Regions from separate parts of the Homo sapiens genome. Here region 2 is linked to region 1. A link means that fine-mapping ties the variant in region 1 to the plasma level of a protein whose gene starts in the linked region. Region 1 holds a variant in brackets. A gene starts in the other region. All regions are shown on their forward strands. Region 1 overlaps PAPLN (papilin, proteoglycan like sulfated glycoprotein). Region 2 holds the start of ADAMTSL5 (ADAMTS like 5).

The links. A credible set is the group of variants that fine-mapping cannot tell apart. PIP is the chance, under the fine-mapping model, that this variant and not a neighbour inherited with it causes the effect. Protein levels are from antibody-based Olink assays in UK Biobank. Linkage for the fine-mapping came from a reference panel and not from the study's own genotypes, which makes the PIPs less certain.
Region 2: ADAMTSL5 starts here. The variant in region 1 is the best candidate, but not a certain one, in a credible set for the plasma level of the ADAMTSL5 protein (UK Biobank, PIP 0.59).

What each region holds. Positions count from the first base shown.
Region 1 is chr14:73,266,927-73,275,377 of GRCh38, forward strand. It overlaps PAPLN (papilin, proteoglycan like sulfated glycoprotein), which reads left to right. Exons shown (of 27, transcript NM_001365906.3): 26 at 1,631-1,797; 27 at 5,569-7,697. The coding sequence ends at 5,738. NUMB (NUMB endocytic adaptor protein) reads right to left here. Exons shown (of 13, transcript NM_001005743.2): 13 at 8,290-8,451. Among named protein-coding and RNA genes, the nearest start is that of PAPLN-AS1, 25 kb to the left of the region's middle. The variant GC/G (reference allele first, on the strand shown) is at 2,468.
Region 2 is chr19:1,503,479-1,519,063 of GRCh38, forward strand. It overlaps ADAMTSL5 (ADAMTS like 5), which reads right to left and starts at 9,541. Exons shown (of 12, transcript NM_213604.3): 1 at 9,485-9,541; 2 at 7,367-7,682; 3 at 7,161-7,252; 4 at 6,890-6,950; 5 at 6,672-6,780; 6 at 4,965-5,092; 7 at 4,520-4,631; 8 at 4,079-4,165; 9 at 3,764-3,927; 10 at 3,261-3,450; 11 at 3,112-3,183; 12 at 1,544-2,838. The coding sequence starts at 7,465. The coding sequence ends at 2,537. It overlaps LOC124904609 (a long non-coding RNA gene), which reads left to right and starts at 4,514. Exons shown (of 2, transcript XR_007067084.1): 1 at 4,514-4,638; 2 at 5,186-5,636. LOC107985337 (a long non-coding RNA gene) reads left to right here and starts at 13,924. Exons shown (of 3, transcript XR_001753835.2): 1 at 13,924-14,041; 2 at 14,814-14,958. RefSeq lists an enhancer at 4,266-5,115 and silencers at 4,440-4,639, 9,366-9,735, 10,575-10,654.

The DNA.
Region 1 (8,451 bases):
GCTTCCATTCCGGCTTCCAGGCCTGGTGCCAGGGGAGAGGGCTGCAGCACCCTCATCCCTACAGAGCAAAGCTCTGTAGGGCCACTGGCTCTCTGCTGGTTGGGCTACACTAAGGTTTCCTAACCTCAGCACTGCTGACAGTTTGGAGCTGGTAAGTTTTGGTTGCTGAGGGCTGTCCTGTGCTTTGCAGGATGTTTAGCAGCATCCAGGGCATCTACCCACTAGATGCCAGGGGCACCCTCCCCAAAGTCATGACAATAAAGAATGGCTCCAGACCCACTGCCAAATGTCCCCTGGTGGCAAAATCTCTCCTGGAGCTGTGAACCACTGGACTACACTCAGCTTTGGGGACTTTGGTGGTCTTTTACCCTAGATCAATTGGTTTTATATTTGTCCATTCATTTAGCAGCCATTTTTTGCCTCCTCCTTCCCTGTAATGTGTCAGGACTAGGCTAGGTTCTGGGGATCCTGGGGTCACCTGAGCCCCCAGAGTACTCCCGGGCAGATGGCCCAGTGTCCCAGGAGCTCCAGATGTGTTTTGTTGCAACTGCTGTCTGTGCACAGAGGAGTGTCAAGGAAGAGGGCCAGGAAATGACTTTGGCTGCACCTTAATAGCTAAGGATGGCAAAGGATGTTCTTGGTAGAGGAAGCAGCAAGTGCCAAAGGTGGGCATTTGAGAAAGGACACCAGGATAGGAACCGGCCTGTGCACTGGCTGGGAGAGGTGACGCGATTGCGGAGGGCATCTGTGTCTTGTGTGGCCTTGAGCCCAGGGAAGGCGGTGGGAGCCGCTAGAGGTGTCCCCACTGGTGTGCTCAGTCCAGCCATCCCCTGATCAGCCTGTCAGGCCTGCTTCTCCATGTTGGCCTCTCCTGGATCTTTCCAGCAGCAAACATGCATAGAACTCCCCTCTTCACAACCACCTTCCATTGAGCCTCTATGTCCCTGCAGACCCTATGCTGACATAGTGTCCCCTTTACAGCTGTCCATGTTGGTTGCCTCTGCCTGTTCATCTCCCTACTCACTTCTCAGGGCCTGCAGTGGGGCCGCATGTCAGCCCCTGTTCCAGGACACTGTCCTGGCCAAGGTCACTGCCTCTCTCCCTAACTCCACTGGACACCTTGCAGTCTTTACGTGACCTGTAGTGTCGTTCTGCTTGCCGTATGCTCCTTCTTGAAATTCTCCCTTCCCTCTGCTCCAGGAACTACTGTCTTCTGCTGTGCCTCAGGGCCTGTCCTTGGTTTCTCCCCGTGTGACTTGGACCACCTCATAGACATGCACTTCGCTGCGTCAGTGCGATGCTGACACACTATCTGGGTCTGGACTCTTGAGCTCCAGACTTCAAATCTGAGGCCTCCTGCTATCTCACAGGCACCCCAAATTTGAAATAGCAGAAAACAACCTCGCCATTCACCCCAGCCTTGGATCTCCCAAGGTTGGAGGGGCACCATCATCACCCAGTAACCCAACCTAGAAACCTTGGTCATTCTTGATTTCTCCCTGTCCTCCACCTGTTTGCTCTCAAGGGGTGGGAACGGTTGGCTCTGGAATGGCCTTTGATTACCTCTTCCCTCTGTCTCCCAGACCTCCAGAGGCCCTTGATGGCTCTCCCAGTGTCCTCTCTCCTCCAGGAACGGGCTACCTGTGCAGGCTGATGGCCACCGTGTCCACCAGTCCCCAGATGGCACGCTGCTCATTTACAACTTGCGGGCCAGGGATGAGGGCTCCTACACGTGCAGTGCCTACCAGGGGAGCCAGGCAGTCAGCCGCAGCACCGAGGTGAAGGTGGTCTCACCAGGTAGGAAAGGTCTATATCCGGGGATGGGAAGGACATTCCCCAGTAGATTTACTGGTTCTCAAGGGCTGGCTCTGCAGTCTGAGGGACTCTGGTTTGAATCCTGGCTCACCCTGCCAGTTGCTGGTAGTGTGACTTGGGGCAAGGGGCTTACCTTCCTGAGCCTCATTTTCCTCCCGTCTACAGTGGGGCTGCTCCACCACCTGAGAGGGCTGTAGTGGAGATGAAGGAAATGATGCTCTGCTGGGCCCCTGGAGATAGCTTAATAGACATTAATGCATGCAGGACATTCAGACTCACCGATTTTGAGACATATGACTGACTGGAATTTCATTATAAAACTTAAAACTTAAGGCAGACCACTAAAATCTGTCCACTCTAATCCACTCTAAACCACTAAAATCTGGCCACTTTATGGCCGTTTGACCATATAACCCAGAAAGGAAAGGGCAGGGATTATCATCACCATTTTACAAATGAGACAGGTATGCAGAGAGCGTAAGTGGTGTTTCCACCGGTCACACCGCAAATGTGGCCTACCTGGGACTAGAGCCCATGTCTTTTGACTCCCCATGTTTTTTTTTTTTTACCCCCACGAAATTACTATACTTGTACCTAAGTGGAATCTTACTTGCATCATTTGATATTTGATATTGTAGCCTTACCTCCTCTA[GC/G]TACTACTCTATCATACTTCAACAAATCCAAATTGCCTGTAAGATGCATTATTTTTGTACCAAGAAAAAAATGCTGCCAGTGAAACGACACAATTCTGATACCATCAATTAGGATGCAAACCAACTTGAGAGATGTGAAAATAAGTGCATATCAGAACTGATGAAACAGATTGTGGTTCAGAGTTCACACTTACAAGAGATATGTTCAAATAAGCAGGAGGGAAAGGGGGACAGGGCTTTGCTCGTCCCCCAGCCTGTGCTTCCTTGTGTCCTTGGTTCTTGTTCACGGAGGGACTGAAGACAGAGTGGTACCTCGGGCCAAGCTGCCAATTCTCACAGGCCTGATACAGACCTTGGGGGAGTATGCCAGGCTCGGAGGTGCCAGGGCCCTTCCTGCCTGGTCTTCTGGGCATTCCTGACAATCAGGGCTGCAGCGCCATGCCAGGAGCACGGTTACACTCAGAGGGGCAGGCCTGGCTGCTTCCTGGCTGCCAGGCTGAGGGTGGAGACTGGCCAGTACTAGAAGTTGAAGGTCTGGCTGAAATGTTGCTTTGTGAGTGGGACTGACTTGTCGGCTTCCTGTCTATGATCTCTTTAGAGATCGCCTCCCCAGGGCCCAGCTCAGTGCTTGGCATCACTAGGTGCTCATGTTGTGGCTGGAAATGTTGTCCAGCGGCTTTTTTCTCACCTGTTGCTCGGCGAGCGGGAGGGAGGGTTACAGGGTTCCTTCCTGCCGCTTCGCCAGCCCGCCGCCTTGACCTCTGTCCGGGGCCTCGCTCGGCCCACCGTCTCGCTCCGCCCACTTGGCCGGGCAGGCTGCGCTCCGCTGACCCGGATCCCGCACTCGTGGCGGCCCCGCGCTCAGCGCACGGCACAGGCGGCTTCCGCACTGGGTGCTAACGTATAGACAAGGGGAACATGGTGGCGCCCGAAAACTCGGAGATGCCAGCAACCGCGGAGCCCCAAGGGGGTGTTACAGGGACAAATGTTCCCGCCGCTCGCAGCTCGGTGAACGGGAGCGTTAAAACTCGTTCTTCCCTCCATTCCCTCCTGCTCACCCAGCTACAAAAGCCGCGACACTCAGATACATGGTGACTAAGTGCCTGCCTGCACAATGATGGAGTTACATTGGCGAAAGCACCACACTCCAGGGACTACTTTTCACCTGTATCATGTCCAGAAAATTGACCTTGTCTACATAATAACCAAATCAAGGCTGTGTGACAAAGCAAAATGCAGATTCACAGTGAGAGAACTGTCAAGAGGACCTAGACATTATGTTTGCGATTAGCTCCAGATGGGATTACATGGAAAACCAAACTACAATGAGAAACTTGCCTGATACCTGGTCACCACGCTGAAATGGCCTGAGATGTGTGTCCCAGATGGGACAGACATGGCCTCAGTCTGGCCACTCTCCTCCGGTCCTCTGCTGGCTGCTCTCACCTGTTCATTTTTTGTTGGGTCATACGGTGTGCGGCTGCCTGACCCTGCCCTACTCATGGTTGGGTGGCACATTGAATTTCAGTGTTAGCACCAGGGTAGGAGGCCTTGGGGTGGTCAGGCTGAGGTAAAAGGGACATAGCTCTACTGGGAGGACTTCTCAACATCGCTGTGAAGTAGGTTGCTGTTGCTGTTATTAGTCCCATTTCACAGATGAAGAAATGTGCATAAAGGGCTTAAGCAACTTGCCCAGAGTTACCCAGCTGGCAAGTGGCAGAGCCCGGATTGAGCCCGGGCAGTATGGGTCCAGAGCTGGTGTGCTTAATCACTATGCTGAGTTCCCACTATGATGGGTCTTGGGCTGTACCAGCTCAGAGTTGATACCAAAGTTACAGATTTTTAGAAACAATATGCATTAATGGCTTTGTTATCTATATAAATTTAGGTAGGTAATAGTCTGGTTATACCAATATACCAAACGTTTGTAAGGTTGTTCGCTGCTAGGTACAGTCTTTTAGTGGTATTTTGTGAGTAAACAAGGGGAGAGAGAAAGATAAGCTTTCTCTGGCTGCTTGAGGTCTGACTTCAGGGAAGGTACCACTCTGGTCTAAGTCAGCTGAGTTTTAAGAACCCCTTCCAGAAGAGAGATGAAGCAGTAGAATGAAATTTTTTTTTTTTTTTTAAGACAGAATCTTGCTCTGTCACCCAGGCTGGAGTGCAGTGGTGTGGTCTCAGCTCACTGTAACCTCTGCCTCCTGGGTTCAAGCGATTCTTCTGCCTCAGCTTCCCGAGTAGCTGGGACTACAGGGGCACGCCACCATGCCTGGCTAATTTTTGCATTTTTAGTAGAGATGGGGTTTCACCATATTGGCCAGGCTGGTCTCAAACTCCTGACCTCGTGATCCGCCCGCCTTGGCCTCCCAAAGTGCTGGGATTACAGGCATGAGCCACCACACCCAGCTGAATGAAACTTAATAGGGAGTTATGAGATACAGACGTTCCTAGTAAATTCAGAGGGAGAGAAAACAAGGGCTTTGCTTTGTTCTCAGTGTAGTTAGTATTAGAGCCACCGTTAACAGGACTGTTTTCCTATTACCTTGTCTAATATGCATTGCTTCCTCTGGGGAAAGTGAAAAACTGGAAGGATGAGGACCCAGGTGACTAAGATAAGCTGGTGATATTGAAGGGACAAAACTTTGATGGTTGGAGGAACCCAGCAGAGAAAGGGAAAAGATAAGAGCTCTTGCTAACTCAAAATTTTACTTGGGGCTGATCCTACCTGCTCTCCCAATCCAGAGGCAAGAACAGTTGTCATTTAGTAATTCAGGTCTCAAACATAAGGAGTTAACTTCAAGAGATGTTTAATTATCCAGTCAATAAATATTTGGGAGTCTAGGAAGAGCTATTCAGTGGGCTGAGGCCACAAATAATAATGGGAGGACCACTGCATGTTGAAGTGAGGCCAAGAAACAGGTAGAAATCATCATCCCTCATAGAGTTTGTACGTATGGTTAAAAGGTTACAGGGTAAGTGCACTTCGTTTTCAATCTGGCAGTTATAATGCTGTGTTCCTTTGAAGGAAATGAAATGGCAGGTGAGAATTTTCAGCATACACAGAGCTTCCTCACCACCTTCTCTCTCCCCTGTCGTTCTGCAGCACCCACCGCCCAGCCCAGGGACCCTGGCAGGGACTGCGTCGACCAGCCAGAGCTGGCCAACTGTGATTTGATCCTGCAGGCCCAGCTTTGTGGCAATGAGTATTACTCCAGCTTCTGCTGTGCCAGCTGTTCACGTTTCCAGCCTCACGCTCAGCCCATCTGGCAGTAGGGATGAAGGCTAGTTCCAGCCCCAGTCCAAAATAGTTCATAGGGCTAGGGAGAAAGGAAGATGGACTCTTGGCTTCCTCTCTCTGGCTGGCAAAGGGAGTTATCTTCTGGAATACATTAGCTCTTTCAAAAACCCACCCAGTGTTTAGCCTCAACGGCAGCCAGTTACCAGCTTCTCTCTGTAGCCTTCAGCAGTGTTTGCATCTCTGACATAACCACAGGCTGCTGTTTTCAAGAAGAGCAATCTGTTTGGATAAGAAAAACCTTTACTTTACAGCTTCCCTTTATAATTTGTTACACAGGAATAGTTAAATGCATTTGTTTGTTTGTTTTTTGAGACAGAGTTTCACTCTTGTTGCCCAGGCTGGAGGGCAATGGCGCGATCTCAGCTCACTGCAACCTCCGTCTCCTGGGTTCTTGATTCTCCTGTGTCAGCCTTCTGAGTAGCTAGGATTACAGATGCCTATCACCATGCCTGGGTAATTTTTGTATTTTTAGTTGAGATGGGGTTTCACCATGTTGGCCAGGCTGGTCTCGAACTTCTGACCTCAGATGATCTGCCCGCCTCAGCCTCCCAAAGTGCTGGGATTACAGGCATGAGCCACCACGCCCAGCCATCAATGCATTTTTTTTATTTTTTTTTTGAGACAGAGTTTCGCACTTCTTGCCCAGGCTGGAGTACAATGGTGCGATCTTGGCTCACTGCAACCTCCACCTCCTGGGTTCAAGCGCTTCTCCAGCCTCAGCCTCCTGAGTAGCTGGGATTACAGGTATGTGCCACCATGCCTGGCTAATTTTGTATTTTTAGTAGAGACGGGGTTTCTCCATGTTGGTCAGACTGGTCTTGAACTCCCGACCTCAGGTAATCCGCCCGCCTCGGCCTCCCAAAATGCTGGGATTAGAGGTGTGAGCCACTGTGCCCAGCCCATCAATGTGTTTTAAAGCTAGCTGTCAGGGTTCCACTTAATTTAAAGCTGGGCAGGGAGATGTGTAATGATTTCAAAGTTAACACCTGTTTGTTTTCTAAAGGGCATGCCAAGTCCTGCTGTATCAGGGAAGTATTCTGTGCTAAAATCAGCGATGGTTCATTGCTCTAGTCTCTCTCACCCTTCTAGGCAGTGCATCAGTCAGCTCTAAATCTGGTGCAGAGGGTTAACAGCATAACCCTTGTTGGCAAAATGGAATAGATGTTAAGACCTCAAATAGGGATTTGGGATGAAACAGCTGCAGTTAGCACTGTTATCTGAGCATGAAAGAACTGGAAACGCTCCTTACGTCGAGATGTTGGACCTTGAAGCCCTCCTGAGGCCAACATGCAAATCTGGCTGTGACGGTTCATCTGACACCTGTGTAAAGCTGACCAGCCTGCTCTGTACAGTGACAATGAGGAGCCCCTCTCTTCCTTAAGTAGGAATCTGTGAAGCAAAATGTTTGCTGCCAAAGACAAATCAGACTGTCAGTCATTAAAAACAGCATTAGCAGGATGAGGATAGCAATGGGGAAGGGTTGTGGGCAATGCAGTAACAGGGAAATGGCTTCAGAAATGGTTTGAGTTGGAAGACAACATTCTTCATCTCTCAGGACTTCTAATTCCTTGATGCTAAAAGAAGAGGCATGGATTCTATGAGCTTCCAAGTCCCTTTCCACTTTAACCTTCTACAAATCTTTCAGAGGACTGCCTAGTAGCAAAGGTTATTCCTGGACACAGGAAAGACGGGCATTACAGGGACCAAAGCTCTGAAAGGTGACTTTTATTACCAACACACTGGCTGGAAAAGGGACAAACCACATCACGGGTGAGTGATACTTCTCAGTCTTCTCTACTCATTCAACAAAGGAAATGTGGGCTGGGGCAGAGGTCTTTTTTCATTTAATACTGGAAAAATATTGAAGAGCATCCATGTTCACTTATGGCTGGTTTTGCTATAGAAATTGGAAAATAAAGGCCACTTTTTTGAAATCCCCAGTTTAATTAAACCAGATTTTGGCCTATTGGTATAAACACATCAGAAGGTAAGTTTGAGGTTAGCTAGCAGCTAACTAGTTCTAATAGAACCAGTCACAGAATAGTGGGCTAAGATTAGAGGTAAAACTCATTCTAGGCCAGTGGTTCTCAACTTTACCATATTGCGAGCTTAAAAAAAAAAAACACAACCTGGGGGGTCCCCCTGCCCCACTAAAATTTTGATTTAATTGGTCTGGAATATAGGCCAGGCGTTAGGATTTTAAAAAGATATCCTCAGGTGATTCTATTGCATAGCCCAGGTTGAGAAGCACTGCCCCACCCCGCTGAGATTCTGCATTTCTAACCAGCTCCTAGGTGAAGTCCATGCTGCTGTTACAGACCACACTTTGAGCAGCAAGAATCTGACTTTAGAGATACACTCAGGATTAAAGTATGAATGAAAATATGAATCTTAAGGGTATTTTTCTAGTCACTAAACTAGGGATTTACAGCAGCAGTAGAATGGAGAGTAAGACCAAAAGAACGAAAAATAAATTCATTTACTAATAAAGGAAAGGGGAAAGAACAGCCCTTCATGGGCAAAAGCTTCTACCATGAACATTTATTTTTGTTAAAGCAGATTATAAATTTTCATCAGTACAAATATATATAACTTACATTTGATTGTAAGGCCAACGTTCAAAAGTAAAAATGAGATGAGCTCTCTTATTGTTATCCGAGGTCAAGAGGCTGCAACTGTCAAGGGGAT
Region 2 (15,585 bases), not on the chromosome of region 1:
GCACCGACAGTAGCCTCATGAGCCAGTGCTGTCACGAGGAGGCCTGCGAGAGGGCCCCGCGTCCAATGGGAAGCGAGTGCCCACGCGGAAGTGGGCTCAGGGCACCTGGGGCCACAAGCCACGAGGCGCGCCCGGAGTCCCTTCATGTCCCGTCCTGCCGCCAGGGGGCACTGCGGCCCCCACTCATCCCTGCAGCACCCGCGGCCCTTGGCTGGGGAGCCCCTGGGACCCCCGCCGGCAGCGCGTGCTGCAGACATCAATCACAGAAGGCACCACGTCACTGAAGCGCCAGGCCTGGGCCGTCCCAGGCTCCGCTGGGTCCCTGGTATGCCGTCGGTGCTCAATAAGCACTTGCTGCAGAAATGTGTGAAGGAAAAAGGGGGCTAGGGAAGGGCTCCAGGAAAGTGTAACTCCCATGTCAGAGCTGGGAGGGGCTTCGAGGGCATCACTCACTGAGCGGGAAACTGAGGCTGGAGAGGGGCTGCACCTGGCCTGGGGTCATCTGCAAGATCAGGGGCCGTGTCCACCAATGTCCTGCACCCCTTGCCGACTCCCTCTGCCTCGGCCGCCTCCTTGCCCTTCACCCTCTCTGGTTGCTCCCTGCCTGGTGGGGGTAGCTTGTCCGTGCCCAGTGGACAGCGGGGACCCATGGACCCCAGGCACCCCAGGCCCCAGGGAGAAATGCAACCACTGGTCCCACACAGAGTGGGTTGTCCCGGGTGGCAGCATGAGCCATGCATCAGGCGTCAGAGGCAGAGGGTTGGCACCCCACGGAGGAGGGTTTGCTGAGCGACCTCGTGACACCCCCTAGTACACACACAGCCCGTGTCGGCCCTCCTGGTTGCAGAAGAACATAGCGGGCTGGCAGCTGGCAGACAGCAGCGGCTCTCACCTGCCTCCTCACCTGGGGAGGGGTTCCCAGGGTGGGCCTGAGAAAGTATGTGGCAGTTGGGGGAGGCTCAGGACCTACCAAAGCCCCATTCATTCCCCACCTGCTCCTATCCTCCTCTATTCCCTGCCCTCACCTCACACAGTGTCAGACGTGCAGGGAGGAGGTGAGGCTGGACCAGGAGGAGGGGTGGGGTGCGTGTGAACATGCGTGCCTACCCATGAGCAAGGTCGAGACGGGGTTCTACCAGCGTGTCCCTGAGTCTCTGTGACCGAGTGCATGTGACTGGGGTGCTTAAAAAAAAAAAAAGTGCTCTGCAGCCATAAAAAAGGATGAGTTCATGTCCTTTGCAGGGACATGGATGAAGCTAGAAGCCATCATTCTCAGCAAACTCACACAGGAACAGAAAACCAAACACCACTTGTTCTCACTCACAAGTGGGAGTTGAACAATGAGAACACATGGACACAGGGAGGGGAACATCACACACCGGGTCCTTTGTGGGGTGGGGGCCGAGGGGAGGGAGAGCATTAGCACAAATACCTAATGCATGTGGGGCTTAAAACCTAGATGATGGGTTGATGGGTGCCACAAACCACCATGGCACGTGTATACTAATGTAATAAACCTGCACATTCTGTACACACCCAGAACTTAAAGTAAAATTTTTTTTTAAAAAGTGCTTGTAAAAATTAAAGAGGAATAAAAGGGGGGTGAACAGCCAGTACGATAGTGCATGCCTGAAATTCCAGTGCTTTGGGAGGCCGAGGCAGGAGGATCGTTTGAGGCCAGTAGTTGGAGAGCAGTGTGGGCAACGTAGCAAGACCCCATCTCTACAAAAAATTTAAAAGTTAGCCGGGCATGGTGATTCACACCTGGAGTTCCAGCTGCTGTGGAGGCTGAGGTGGGAGGATCGCTTGAGCCCAGGAATTTGAGGCTGCAGTGAGCCATGATTGCACCACCGCACTTCAGCCTAGGTGACAGAGCAAGGGTCTACCTCAGAAAAAAAAAAAAAGGAGGAGCAAGCACGTGTTGATGGGTGGAAATCCAGCCAGAAATGCTGAGGCTGAAAAGATTGTCTCCGAGTTTCCTGGTAGCCAGGGGAAAAGGGGAAATTGGTACGTTGGTACGTTACAGTGCCTGGTTAGGCATGTCTTCTAAGGGGCATGCCTGTTTGTGACAGTGTCTCTGCCCTTCACACATGAGGGTGTGTGTGAGTAGCAGAGAGCAGAGACAGCACAGTGTCTGGGAAGTAAACAGATGATCTTCTGGGTACCCAGGGCAGCAGGGTGTCATGCTCGTTCATGACAGTGTCTCCAAGCAAGTGTGACGCGCGCAAAGAGAAAGAAAGCAGCGTTAAACTTTCTGAGTATAAATAGCTATGAGCTTCCTGGCAGCCAAGGAGAGAGGCGAAATAAAAGTCAGAGTCTCCTTAGTGCCTCCTCACCAGTGCCTGCCGGCTTGTGACAGTGGCTTTGACTGCATGCAGAGGTGTCTTAAGCGTGTGTGGGAGGGAGTCACATAGCTGCACAGGTGGGACGTATTTCAGAGCTGCCTGGAAGCCAGGGTGAGAGGGGAAATACGTTGACGTTGAGGCTGGTCAGATGTATCTTTCTTGCTGTGTGTGGCCGGGGCTCCTGCAGGGGCTCAGCCAGGACAGCGCCGGGCAGTCAGGCGTATGCGGCTGTCCTCCGCAGGGCTCCAGGGCCGGGCGTAGCCGGCGTGGGGCAGCAGCAGCTGGTCCTGTGTGCCGTCGGGGCTGACAAGACGCTGGACAGCCATCAGGTAGTCCCGGTGGGGTGCCAGCATCGGGCAGGGGCAGTGGCCTGGCGCCCACACGTACTCGCGTGCCCGCAGTGGCGAGCGGTTCTTGTAGACGAGCTGGATGCGCACCTCATAGCGGGTCTCCTGGGCCTGGTGGTGGTGGCCCAGCACTCGGGCCTGGAACACTGTTGAGGGGACGTGCTAAGCTGGCTGGCTGCTCAACTCTGCGCAAATCTCTACGCCCCCTCCCTTGCCAGAAGAGGGACTGAGGGTCAGGTGGGACCTCGGGATCTATAGGGACTAGAGTCAGGATCACGTCAGGGATCAATGAGGGATTAGGGTCAAGAGGCAAATTAGGATCAGAAGAAGGGGTCAAGGGTAAAGTCAGATTAGGGTCAGAGGTCAGGAGGAGGCCAGGTTAGTAGGGGCTAAGTCAGGGTAGAGGTCGGGGGTCTCACCAAAGTCACTGCCGCAATAGTGGAGTAGTCGGTGGGCGCGGCCGCGGGTGTCAGGGCAGGGTGGGCAGGGGTCTGTGGGATGGGCGGTGCTGTGAGGGGCACAGGCCTCAGTCCCCACTCATCCCCCACCCTGGCTGTCCCCACCTCACCTGGGGCCAGCGTTGGGGTCTGTGCAGGGGTGACAGCAGGGGCTGCGGGGGGCTGAGGCTCCACCCCCCGGGGCTGAGGCTGCCTCAGGGGCCAGCCCAGGGCCTGCACACGAGCCTGGAAGGGGCTGTAGCGCTCCCGAGGGAGCCAGAACTCAAACTCGATGCCAGGGTTGGGCTCCTGCAGGAGGACCTGGAGCAGGGGAGGGGACACAGGGAGCTTCACAGGAGGCTGGGGTTGCCTCCTGCCTCTGACCCTACGACCCCAGCCTCCCCACTTTGATCCTGTCTGCCCCCAGCCTCCCTCCTCTGATGCTCTGTCCCTAGCTGATCCCCTCTGACCCTGTCCCCACCCTCCCCCCTCTGATGCTCTGTCCCAGCCTCTCCCCTCTGACCCCAGACTCCCCCTTCTGGCCCCAGTCACCTCCACTCCTACCCTCTGTCCCCAGCCTCTCCCCTCTGTCCCCAGCCGACCCCCTCTGACCCTGTTGGAGGCCCAGTGGCACCTGTAGGAGCAGGTCATGGGAGGTGGGCCCGGCTGCTTGCAATGTCTCCTGGGGCCCTGTGTCTCGGGTGTAGACCACATGCGTGCCGGCCGCCTCGTAGGTCCCTGGTGGGCTGACCACCCAGTGCCCATTAAGCACGTAGCGCCCATCGCCCCCCATCAGTGCTGCAAGGGAACAGTCAGCCCTCAGGAACCTGTCGTCTCGTCTCCCAGACCCTGGGGTCCCCTCCTCAGGCCTCAGTCTCCCCATCTGTAAACAGGGACAACCGCCCCCGGGTGCCCAGCCGGGTGCCTCTCGCCTCACATCCTAGGATACCCAGGTGGTTGCGGCTCCTGTGTTCCACGCGGATGTGTCTGGCGCCCTCGGGGATCAGGGTCACGTTCCAGTACCCAGCGAAGGCACCTGGGTGGGAGGGTAGGAGGGTGTTGGGGTGCCAGTGGGGGTGTATTTGAGCGATGACTTGAGGATTTAATGAGCTACTGCGGGTAAGACAGCTAGCCAGGGTCCTGGGAACCGGAAAACCCTCCGTAAACGTTTGGAGTTACAATTACTATTGCTTCAGTGTGGCAGGGAAAGGGTTAAAACCCCATCTGTCCTGGGGAAGGGCGGGACAATCTGTCAGTAGCCAATCAGGATGAGGAGAAAGGGGGGCTGGGCCGCACACTGGCCAATCAGCACGGAAATTTGCTTCCGGGCCACGGCTCGTTAAAGGGCCCACTCTGACGTGTGTGCAGGGAGGGCGGGGCAGGTAGTCACCGGCGTCACGAAACACGCGCTGCACGAAAAGGCACGAGTCGTTGGCGCCTCCGCAGCGGCCACAGCGGTCCTCGAGGGCACCCGAGCCCAACAACCCATCACAGCCGGCGCTCTAAAGGGTGAAGGACAGGCGCGGCGTCACTGACGCTGGGAGGGGCAGGACCTGGGGAAAGGGCAGTGCCTGGGAGCAAGAGGACGAGGCCTGGAGGGAAGATGGGGGTGGAGCCTAGGGAGGAGCAGGACCTGGCGGGAGGAGGATGGGCTTGGCGCCCGGGAGTGGGTGCCTAAGGGGGGCTGGGGGCAGGGCCTGGAAGGGGAGGGGGAAGGCGGTGGAGCCTAGGGAGGGGGTGGAGGCTAATGGGAGGAGGGCGGAGGTGGAGCCTAGGATGGGTGGGGCCTGAGTGGGAGGTGGGCGGGGCTCGGGCGGGGCCTGACGAGTCCTTACAAGGCAGCGGCCAGCCACGCAGACCCCCTGGGCACCCGGGCTGCAGGCGGTGCCGTCCAGGACGCGGCCGAAGCTGTGGTAGAAGGCGTGCCCCTCAGCCAGGCAGTTGAGGTCGCACTGGTTGGGCGCTGAGGGCAGGAGGAGTCGGTGGGCCGGGGACCCCTGTTCGAGCTCCAGTCCCCCTCTACCAAGCTTCATCAGGCAACCATCACTTTGGGCAGATGAAGCCCAGAGATTTGGCCAAAGCCACACATCGAGGCTGAGGCAGAGCCAGGACTGGACCGTAGGTGCTCTGCGTCCAGCAACCTGGGACTCGCAGGCAAGTATCCTGGGGCTGCATTCATTCATTCATTCATTCATTCATTGTCTTTATATTAGGAGTCCTTACATATTATTCATTTTTAACACCATTACTCATTCTTCATTCCACTGAACACCTACTGTTTTCCAGACACTGTTCCAAGCTCTAGGATACAGAAGCAAGAATTCAATCAGTGTGCAGATGGATGGCCTTAAAAAAGGCCAGGTGTGGTGTCTCATGCCTGTAATCCCAGCACATTGGGAGGCTGAGGTGGGCAGATCTCCTGAGGCCAGGAGTTCAAGACCAGCCTGGGCAACATGGCGAGACCCCCCCGTCTCTACCAAAAATACAACAATAAAAATTTAGCCAGGCTTGGTGGTGGGAGCCTGTAATCCCAGCTACTCCGGAGGCTGAGGCAGGAGAATCGCTTGAACCAGGGAGGTGGAGGCTGTAGTGAGCCAAGATCATGCCACTGCACTCCAGCCTGGGTGACAGAGCGAGACTCCATCTCAAAAAAAAAAAAAAAAAAAAAAAAAGAAGATCTGAGCATCTGGCCCAGGCACCAGCAAGTACCCAATGAAGTGTTTGTCCAGTACTGACTGGACTGAGTCCCGCACAACTGAGCTGTGTCGCTGGTCCTCCCTGGGCCTCAGTTTCCCCTTCTGCCTGGAAGTGGGGCAAAATGAGCTGTCTGATCAAACACAAAGGCCGACAGCCCTGATCTCCACTCCTCCTTCTCCAGCTCCTTCTGGCTCCCATTTCCCTGAGCCTGGCTGGTGGACCCTGCCTGGAACGGATCCTGGGCTGGCCCTAGTGGGCCTCTGCGGGGGTGGGATCACAGCAGGTTTCCTCCAATTCTCAGATTGATGGAAGGAAGGAAGGGAGGGAGGGAGGGAGGGAGGGAGGAAGGAAGGGAAGGGAGAAAGGGAAGGAAGGGAAGGAAGAAAGGGAAGGAAGGAAGGAAATGAGGTTGATGGATGGCACTTTGTCCATTCTAGGCTTTTCTTATATCTGTGTCTGCCTTCCCCATGGCGTGTGAAGCTGCCTGTCTCCCTGAAATCTGGAGGCGCACTGACCCGGGCACGTAGTTATATAACTCGCTATTTTCAGCTCAATGCAGCAACATTTCCTGCTACTGGGATAAGTTTGAGAAGTGTTGGCCTCTGGATACAGCTCTAAGTCAATCCTTAGTTGGGTGTTCAGCCCTGTGCAGAATGAACCCTGCTTCCCTCTGCCCCTGTTTCACGCCTAACATATGCTGTTTCTGTTTCACTAACTCCTACATATCCTTCAAAGCCCTAGCACTAATACCCTCTTCTCTTTGCAACCCTCCAAGACCCTCTCCCTGAGACTAATGAGTTGTTCGCTCTGGACCAATTCTGACCACAGGAGACCAGACTACTCACCCCCATGGAAGGGCACCCACTGGTAGGTCTTCTGGGTGCCCAGGACAGGGCGGCCATTGTACAGGGCACACTGTAGGTCTCGGAAGGGCACAGCCCCTGGGGGGCAGTCCTAGGGACAGAGATAGGTGAGCCAGAGGCTGGGACAACCCCAAGGGGCAGGTGGTGGGCTTCAGGCAGTCTGGGGTGGGAGAGTGGTCTGGGAGGTGGGCAGGGCTTACTGGCAACTGGCAGAGGCGGTACTCATGGGAGTCTCCCCAGCACGGTTCTTCCCCAGGAAGCCTGAAGGGAGACAGAGTGTGGCGAGAACCCCCAGGGACCCCCTCCCAGGGCTGGCCTTCCACCCTCCGCCCCCGCCAACCCCACCCGCATTCCAGCGGGATCAGGGGGATTAAAGGGCACAGCATGTGTGGGCAGGCCGAGGGTGCGGCCAGGGGCCGGGCTGGGCCGGCGGGGGAGGAGGGGCAGGGACCCCCTCCGGGCCCCGCTCACCGGAGGCAGCGCCGGCTGCGCACAGAGACGCCACGCCCGCAGGAGCTGGAGCAGCGGGTCCAGGACACCCACGGGGTCCACTCGCCCGGACCCTACTTGGGGAGACAGAGGCACGGTCAGCCTTGTAGGGGGACGCTGGTGACCCCACACTGCTGACTGGGTCCCCATTCCCACTCGCCACCCCCTGGGCTCATGCCCCCCCTTACCTGAGCACTGACCCCCAAACCACAGTTCAGCAGGGCCCACAGGAAGAGCAGGAGGTTCTGGAAGAGGTGGGGCCTGGGGAACAGAGGGGCCGAGTCCATAGAGCCACCGCCAGAGACACAGGGTTGTGTCCCGGCTCTGCCCTGACTGGCTGTGTGATCTTGGAAAGTAACTAAACCTCTCTGAGCCCTACCTCTCGTCTCTGAAAAACGGGGTAATAGAGCCTCCCTTACAGGAAAGTTGAGGGGTCCTGTGGATCAGGTAAAGAAGACAGGAGACGTGGAGCCCGGTATGGAGAGGAAGAACTCAGAATGTCATCTGCAATTATTATTGTTGTTAGTTAGTTTGTTTTTGAGACGGAGTCTCGCTCTGTCGCCCAGGCTGGAGTGCAGGGGTGCGATCTCGGCTCACTGCAACCCTCCCCGGTTCAAGTAATTCTCCTGCCTCAGCATCCCGAGAAGCTAGGATTACAGGTGCCTGCCACCACGCCGGACTAATTTTTGCCGTTTTAGTGGAGACAGGGTTTCACCATCTTGGCCAGGTTGGTCTCAACCTTCTGACCTGAAGTGATCCACCTGCTTTGGCCTCCCAAAGTGCTAGGATTATAGGCATGAGCCACTGCACCCAGCCTACAATATTATTGATATGTGTATTGTGCTATAATGCAGACAGTAGGTGCTTAATCGATGCTTGATGATTGGAGGGATCATTCAAAAATAGTACACAGGTGCCTCCTAGGGCTGGGGCCCCCTCCCCGCCCTCCCCACCATCACTGCTTCTACCTTTCCGTGTGGCCTGAGGCCAGCCACTCCACTCTCCCAGGCCTCAGTTTCCCCATCTGTGCAGTGGGGGCCAAGTGGACTCAGTCCATGATTCTGTGACACCCTGCGGAAGGTGCGGCCGGCAGGGGCTGGATCAGGAGTTGGGTCCCTAGAAGAGGCCCTCAGCTGCACCCCGGCCCCAGGGCTCCCTCAGCTCCCAGACAGCAGGGAGTCCCCCGGATTGGGGATGGGACAGGGAGGGGGTGACCTGGCCCAGGTCCGTTCGGTGCCTCATGGCCTCATCGGCGGAGGGGGTGGGACTGAGCTCCGGGGCAGCCCGTGGAGGGAAGGGGCCACTGCTGAGGCTGGAGCAGGGAAGGGGAGGAGGCTGACTGCCTCTCTGGGCCTTAGTTTCTCCATCCTGTCAGGGCAGGGATGAAGTCACTTGCCATCCACACCCTCCTCATGACCCCAGCCTGCAGGGGGAAAGAGGGGGGAAGGGAAGCAGCCGCCAAGTGAGCCAGGGCGTCCTGCTGCCAGCAGAGCCTGAAGGCAGGTGGGTGAGCCCCGGCCCGGGCACCAGCTGGGGAAGAGGCTGGGTCCCACCTGGACCCTGTTTCCCTGGCTCCAGCATTTGGACTTCTGAGGCACCAAGGGTCTAGGGTCCTGGGTATCTCTAGGTACTGAGACAGCTGTGTGGTCTGCTGCATCCGTGCCCCTCTCTGAGCCTAGAGCCTGGGCTGGCCCAGGAAGCAGGAAGAAGTCTGCACCAGAAACTTAAAACAAGGGGAGGGGGGCCAGGTGCGGTGGCTCACGCCTGTAATCCCAGCACTTTGGGAGGCCAAGACAGGCGGATCACCTGAGGTCAGAAGTTTGGGACCAGCCTGACCAACATGGTAAAACCCCATCTGTACTAAAACACAAAAATTAGCCCGGTGTGGTGGTGCACACCTGTAATCCCAGCTACTTGGGAGGCTAAGGCAGGAGAATCGCTTGAACCCAGGAGGCGGAGGTTGCAGTGAGCCGAGATGGGGCCAATGCACTCCAGCCTGGGCGACATAGTGAGACTCAGTCTCAAAAACAACCAACCAACCAAAAAAAACAGGGGGAGGGGGCTTGACCTTCTGACCACCCCCACCGGACTCTAAGCCTGGTTTGAGGAGTGGGGGTCTAGGTGGTGAAAAGTGGGGGGCTACAAGGACCACCCTACCCCCTCCTCAATGGGCCCTGCCCAGAATCAAGGCTCTCCCCTCCCCGTGTGGGCTGCAGCCCGGACTGGCGGAGGGATCTCAAGGCAAGCCGCACCTCTGGGCCTCAGTTTCCCCCGGAGAAAGTGGGAGGATAGGCAGATGGACTTACCGGCTGCGCGGAGCCCAGGCAGCGCGTCCCGGCTCCCTGAGCGGCCCCAGGGCGAGCGGAAGCGGCGGGGCCCAAGGTGCTGGGCGGGGTGGGGAGCCTGGGACGGTCCCTCCCACCGCGGCCTCCGCAGGCGCGCCCAGGCCCGGGTCAGGAGGGGCGGCGGCCCCGGGCGCCCTCGCGCGGCGGGCGCGGATCTGCGGCAGGGGACTGCCCGGCGGACGCGAGCGCAGGGGTCCCGGAGCCGCAGGCTGGTGTCGGGCGCCCGGGTCCGGGTGACCTTGGCAGGCTCGGGCGGGGGCGCGGCGCGGGGACTGACCGCCCTCCTCTGCCCCGGGGCTGCTATTCCGGGCGCCGCGCTCAGGGCCCGGGAATGTGCGCGAACCGAGGTCACCCCGCCCTGGGTCTGGGAGTCCCGGGCGCTGCCCCTACCCCGCCGACGCCCGGATTGCGTCCCACCGGCGTCCCCATCCCCGGTCACAGCCCCCTCCCCTGGTCCTGCCCCTCACCCCTCTCGCGGGGGGTCGACCTGCTCGTGGATGGGGACCCTGGCGCGCCTGGGCTCCCATCCGGGGGTTCCCCGACCCAGGTCCCGGTCACCCCCAGCGCAGGGCCCCAGCGCACTGGGGAGAGGCTCGGCCCCGTGGGCCGCGCGCGGGGGGCGGAGAGACCCTCCCAGCTGGCGCATTCCCGGGCGCTGCTGTCACCAGGGGACGCGCCCCACCCCGCCTCCCGCCCTCCCTGCCGGGCCCCGGGGCTGCCAGCGGGGCTTCAGAGCCAGACCCGGGTCCAGGCGGTCCCTCTCCCTCACAGCCGCGGCCACACCCTCTCCGGCCTCAGTTTCCCCATCCCAGCAGTGGGCCCGGCAGGGATCTCCACCGCGAACCTTCCATCTGGAATCCGGCTCTGCGCGGACCGGCAACGCGAGGGGGCACCCCGGGACTCCCCCCACCCCACCCTTTCCCGCCGGGCGTCTGTGAGCCGCCCCGTGCCCACCCACGCAGGGATGAGACCAGGCCCTGGGTTCTGGGCTCCACCAGTTTCTGGTGTCGCCCCACGGCGCCCCCTGGCGGGCGGGCTGAGGGACTGGGGCACTAAAGGAGGGGGTGGAGGGACTGTCCTGCTCCCTGGGCTCCACCCAGGCTCGGTCTGAGCACCCCCTCCTCCAGGAAGCCCACCCTGCTGTCCCACAGCGCTGACCACAGGGAGAGAGGTTTGCTGGGGACATACAGGGTGTTGCTGGTCCAACTCAGTCTGCCCTCCAGCCTGTAGCATGTCAGCAGAGCCACCCATATGCCATTTATTGAGCACCTACTGTGTGCACAGCTGTGAACAACCCAGCCAGTCCCAGGCCAGCGGGTAAGGCAGCCCCCTGGAATGTATGACCCCCCACCTTCTGACCTGGACTATTGGAGAAAATAGCCCAGGCCCACCACTGATGGCCCCAGGTTGGGGGGTGGTGGTTGCGGGGATGTCAAGAAGGCCCTCACTGAAGGGGTCAAGAGAGAAGGGCAGGCCGGGCGCGGCGCCTCATGCCTGGAATCCCAGCACTGTGGGAGGCCGAGGCAGGCGGATCACCTGAGGTCAGGAGTTTGAAGCCAGCTTGGACAACATGGTGAAACCCAGTATCTACTAAAAATATAAAACTTAGCCAGGCATGGCGGTGAGTGCCTGTAATCCCAGCTACTCGGAAGACTGAGGCACGAGAATCGCTTAAACCCGGGAGGCAGAGGTGGCAGTGAGCCGAGATCACGCCACTGCACTCCAGCCTGGGAGACAGGCGAGACTCCGTCTCAAAAAAAAAAAAAAAAAAAAAAAAGGAAAGAAAGAAAGAAAGAAGTCAGCTCAGGACATGTGTCAATGTGTCATTAGGACAATTGTATCCTCCTCAGATGTGCCCCATTCCCAGATGTCCAGTCCACAGAGCTCCACTGGGAGTGCAGACAGCAGGCCCTGTGCCCCGCAGGGAAGGTATACAGAAAGCACAGCGCCCACAGGGAGCACACACAGCAGGCATTATGCTCTGCAGGAAGGGTATACAGCAGGTGCTGCATCTTGTAGAAATGCATAGAGTAGACTCTGCCCTGCAAAGGAGTGTATACAGTAGATATGGCACCTTCAGAGGAGTGCATACAGCAGTCACTGCATCCTGTAGAGAGTATATACAGCAGGTGCTGCATCCTGCAAGGAAGGTATACAGCAGGTGCTGCATCCTGCAAGGAAGGTATACATAAGGCGCTGTCTCCTGCAGGGAGCGCATACAGTAGGCACTGAGTTCTATGGAAAGTGTACCCCGCAGCCCCTGTTCCCTCCTGGGAGTGCATACCGCAGCCACTGCACCCTGCGTGGGGGCTCTAGAGCTGGCAAGATTGGCAGAGGTGGTGGTGAAGATGTGGAGGGCTGCCCCCCACCCCCAGTTCTTGTCCCCTACCGTCTCCCACCTCTGTCCTCTGGATGTCCCTAGGAGGAGGCTGGGAGCTCAGCCTAAGACACCCGGTGTAGGTGGAGGGGGTGGCTGCTGAGGCTCAGAGGCTCCTGGGGTCCCAGTTGGGCGGGGTCCCAGCTTACTACATTCCCCTGCCCTTGCCTGGACCCTGACCCAGGAATCAGCCGAGTCCCCCTACTCTGAATTTCAGCCTGGACCCCCTCCTTGAGGCAGCGTCAGGGCTAGAGGGGAGACTGAGACGCGGGTCCCGGCGGATGTGGATCAATTAGGTTCCATTTCCTTCATGGTTGTATGGCCTTGAGGCTTAAGGAATGCCGCGATCTGCTGTGTGACTGGGCTACAGTGAACAGTATGGTACCCCACACTTCAAACTGTGTTCACAGGGTAGATTTCATGGTAAGGGTTCTTACCATAAAAGAACAAAAACAGTGGGACACAAGGGACCTCGGGAAGTGACAGGTAGGCCTGTCATCTTGAGTGTGGTGACTGCATATGTGCAAACTCATCAAATTGCAGACACTGGGCTGGGCACGGTGGCTCACGCCTGTAATCCCAGCACTTTGGGGATCCAAGGCCAGTGGATCACCTGAGGTCAGGAGTTCGAGAGCAGCCTGACCAGCAAGGTGAAACCCCGTCTCTACTAAAAATGCAAAACCTAGGACACGGTGGTCCCAGGATACCTCAACCTCCTGCGTGGACTGGGTGGGGCCTCCCCATCCCTGCCCCACAGACCCCTGGACCCCCCGGTCCCTGGGGCTGTCCGTCTGTTCCTGGGCACCAGCAGGGGCCACGCAGAGTTGGGACCCTCCCCGGCTGGAGTCACCCCATGGGACTCAGGGCCCTGGACCCTCCTTGGCCGCTGCTCGCCCGGTCCTCATTCTGTGCCGGTTTCTTGTGCACGCTCGGAATCTGTTCCCTGCAGGCACCCAGTGCCCCGGGCACCGTCCAGAATTCCTGGAAGAGACCTCTTGCTTTCTTACCCCACTGCCCAGGCTCCAGGCCTGTGACATGGCCTCCCCAGGGTGCCCCTTCCCCTCCACCTTCACGTGCTGAAAACCACCTGTTCTGTCACTTTCAGGCGACGTGGATCAGGTGGACTGGCCCACCTCCTCCATTGTGTATGACGTAACCCATGCTTGGCCAAACAGATAATTCCATCTCCTAGAGACGGGGATTGGCTGGGGGATGACCATGTGACCCAAGTGGGCCAATGAGAGCCTGCCCTGGGACTTGAACTGGGCCATTAGAGGAAAAGGTGGTTTCCCGTGGCTGGGGTGGGCTCCAGGGATGGCGTGAGTTGAGGTAGGCTGGACTTTCTTGACTGCTCGAAGAGATGCACTGTCTCAAGCAGATGCTGACAGACGGCAGCAAATGGAAGGGGCCAGATTTCTTTTTTTTCTTTTTATCTTTCTGTCCTTTTCTTTCTTTTTTTACTTTTTTTTGAGACAGGGTCTTGCTCTGTCGCTCAGGCTGGGGTGCAGTGGTGCAATCACAGCTCACTGCAGCCTTGACCTCCTGGGCTCAAGCGATCCTCCCACCTCAGCCTCCCATGTAGCTGGGACTACAGATGCATGCCATCACATCTGGCTAATTTTTTTGATCTTTAGTAGTGACAGGATCTTGCTATGTTGTCCCGACCCAGGCTGGTCTCAAACTCCTGGGCTCAAGAGATGCTCCTACCTCAGCCTTCCAAGTAGCTGGGACTACAGACATGCATCACCATGCCTGGCTAATTTTTATATTTTTTGTAGAGTTGGGGGTCTCCCCCTGTTGCCCAGGCTGGTCTCGAACTCCTGAACTCAAGTGATTCTCTTGCCTCAGCCTCCCACACTGCTGAGATTGCAGGCATGTGCCACCCACCGTGCCCAGCCCAAAAGTCTAGATTTCTGAGAAGGTTGTTTGAGTTCCTGGATTGAGCCTCATCTGAAGGCATTCATCCATTTTTTTTCACTTTAGCAATTTTTAGTTTCTTACTTTTTTTTTTTTTTTTTGCCAGGGTCTCGCTCTGTCATCCAGGCTGTACTGCAGTGGTGCGATCTTGGCTAACTGCAACCTCTGCTTCCCAGGCTCAGGCAATCCTCTGGGATCAGCCTCCCAAGTAGCTCGGACTACAGGTGAGTGCCATTATACCCAGCTAATTTTTGTATTTTTAGTAGAGGTGGAGTTTTGCCACGTTGCCCAGGCTGGTCTCAAACTCCTGAGTTCAAGTGATCCTCCCACCTTGGCCTCCCAAAATGCTGGGATTACAGGTATGAGCCACTGTTCCCAACCTTATTTTAGAATTTTTAAAAAATTTTTATTATTATAGAGACAAGGTTTCAGGAACGAAACTCCGTCTCAAAAAAAAAAAAGGTGATAACAATTACTATTTCATGATTATTGACTAAATTCCAAATGTTATTTTATTTGGATTTGGATTTCACCAGGCTTGTTTTTTTGTTTTTTTTTTTTTTTTCAGATGGAGTCTTGCTCTGTCTCCCAGGCTAGAGTGCAGTGGCGTGATCTCGGCTCACTGCAAGCTCTGCCTCCTGGGTTCACGCCATTCTCCTGACTCAGCCTCCCAAGTAGCTGGGATTACAGGTGTGTGCCACCACGCCTGGCTAAATTTTTGTATTTTCAGTAGAGACAGGGTTTCACTGTGTTAGCCAGGATGGTCTCGATCTCCTGACATCATGATCCACCCACCTCGGCCTCCCAAAGTGCTGGGATTACAGGCGCGAGCCACTGCACCCAGCCTTTTTTTTTTTTTTTTAAACAAATGTCCTTTTTCTGTTCCTGGATTCCATAAGACATTGAACTATTTGTCTCATAATTAGTAAAAAGACCCATGCAGATTAAAAATGGATTATTTCTGTGGTAATCGGGTGGGTTCTGATGCCCATGCAGCACCTTGAACACGGCTGGAGTTGATGAGTATCCCTGATGGGAAGTCGATGCTGCGTCCATGGAGAGAAGGGGCACGGGGTTGAGTGTCCACCCAGCACCTAATGGAGATACAGACCCTCTCCCTGCCACTGGCGCTCCCTGTCAGGTGGGACAGACACCAGCAAGCTAGCAAGGAAACCATCATTCTGGGTTGTGGTGGAACTGGGGAGAAGCAGGCATGGATCACGTCTAGGGCATCTTGGGGCAGGGGCGGCCTCCTGGGCACAGGTGGCCCTTTCCTGCCTGGGCCTAAAAGCTAAGAAGAGGATGCCAGGCAAAGTCTGGGAGGGTGGCAGAGGGAACAGCACATGCAAAGGCCCTGTGGCAGGGTGAGCTTGGTGTGCGTCTGAGGACAAATGGGAAGGCCAGAAGGTTGATGTCTTGGCCTTGTGTCCTCATCTTGGGTGGTCAACTCTGGGGAATGTTGTATTCAGTTCCTCAGAGGGTGCCTGATGAGTGTGGGACTCAGGGTGCCCCGGGGGTACCCAGCTCCCACCCTGCTCCCTGAACCAACTCTCTGCACTAAAGCCTTGCTTCAGGCTCTGCCTTTGGGGGAACCCACACAGATGGGCCAGGAGGGTTGAGTAACCTGCCCCAGCTGCCAGTGCTAAAGCCACCCACCTGGACAATGTCAGTGGAGGAAGTGAAGAGAGTGGGTGAGAGGCCCCAACACTGAACCCCAGGCTCCCAGGAGAAGGAGGAGGTGGCTTAAAGGAGAACTGGAAAAATGCAT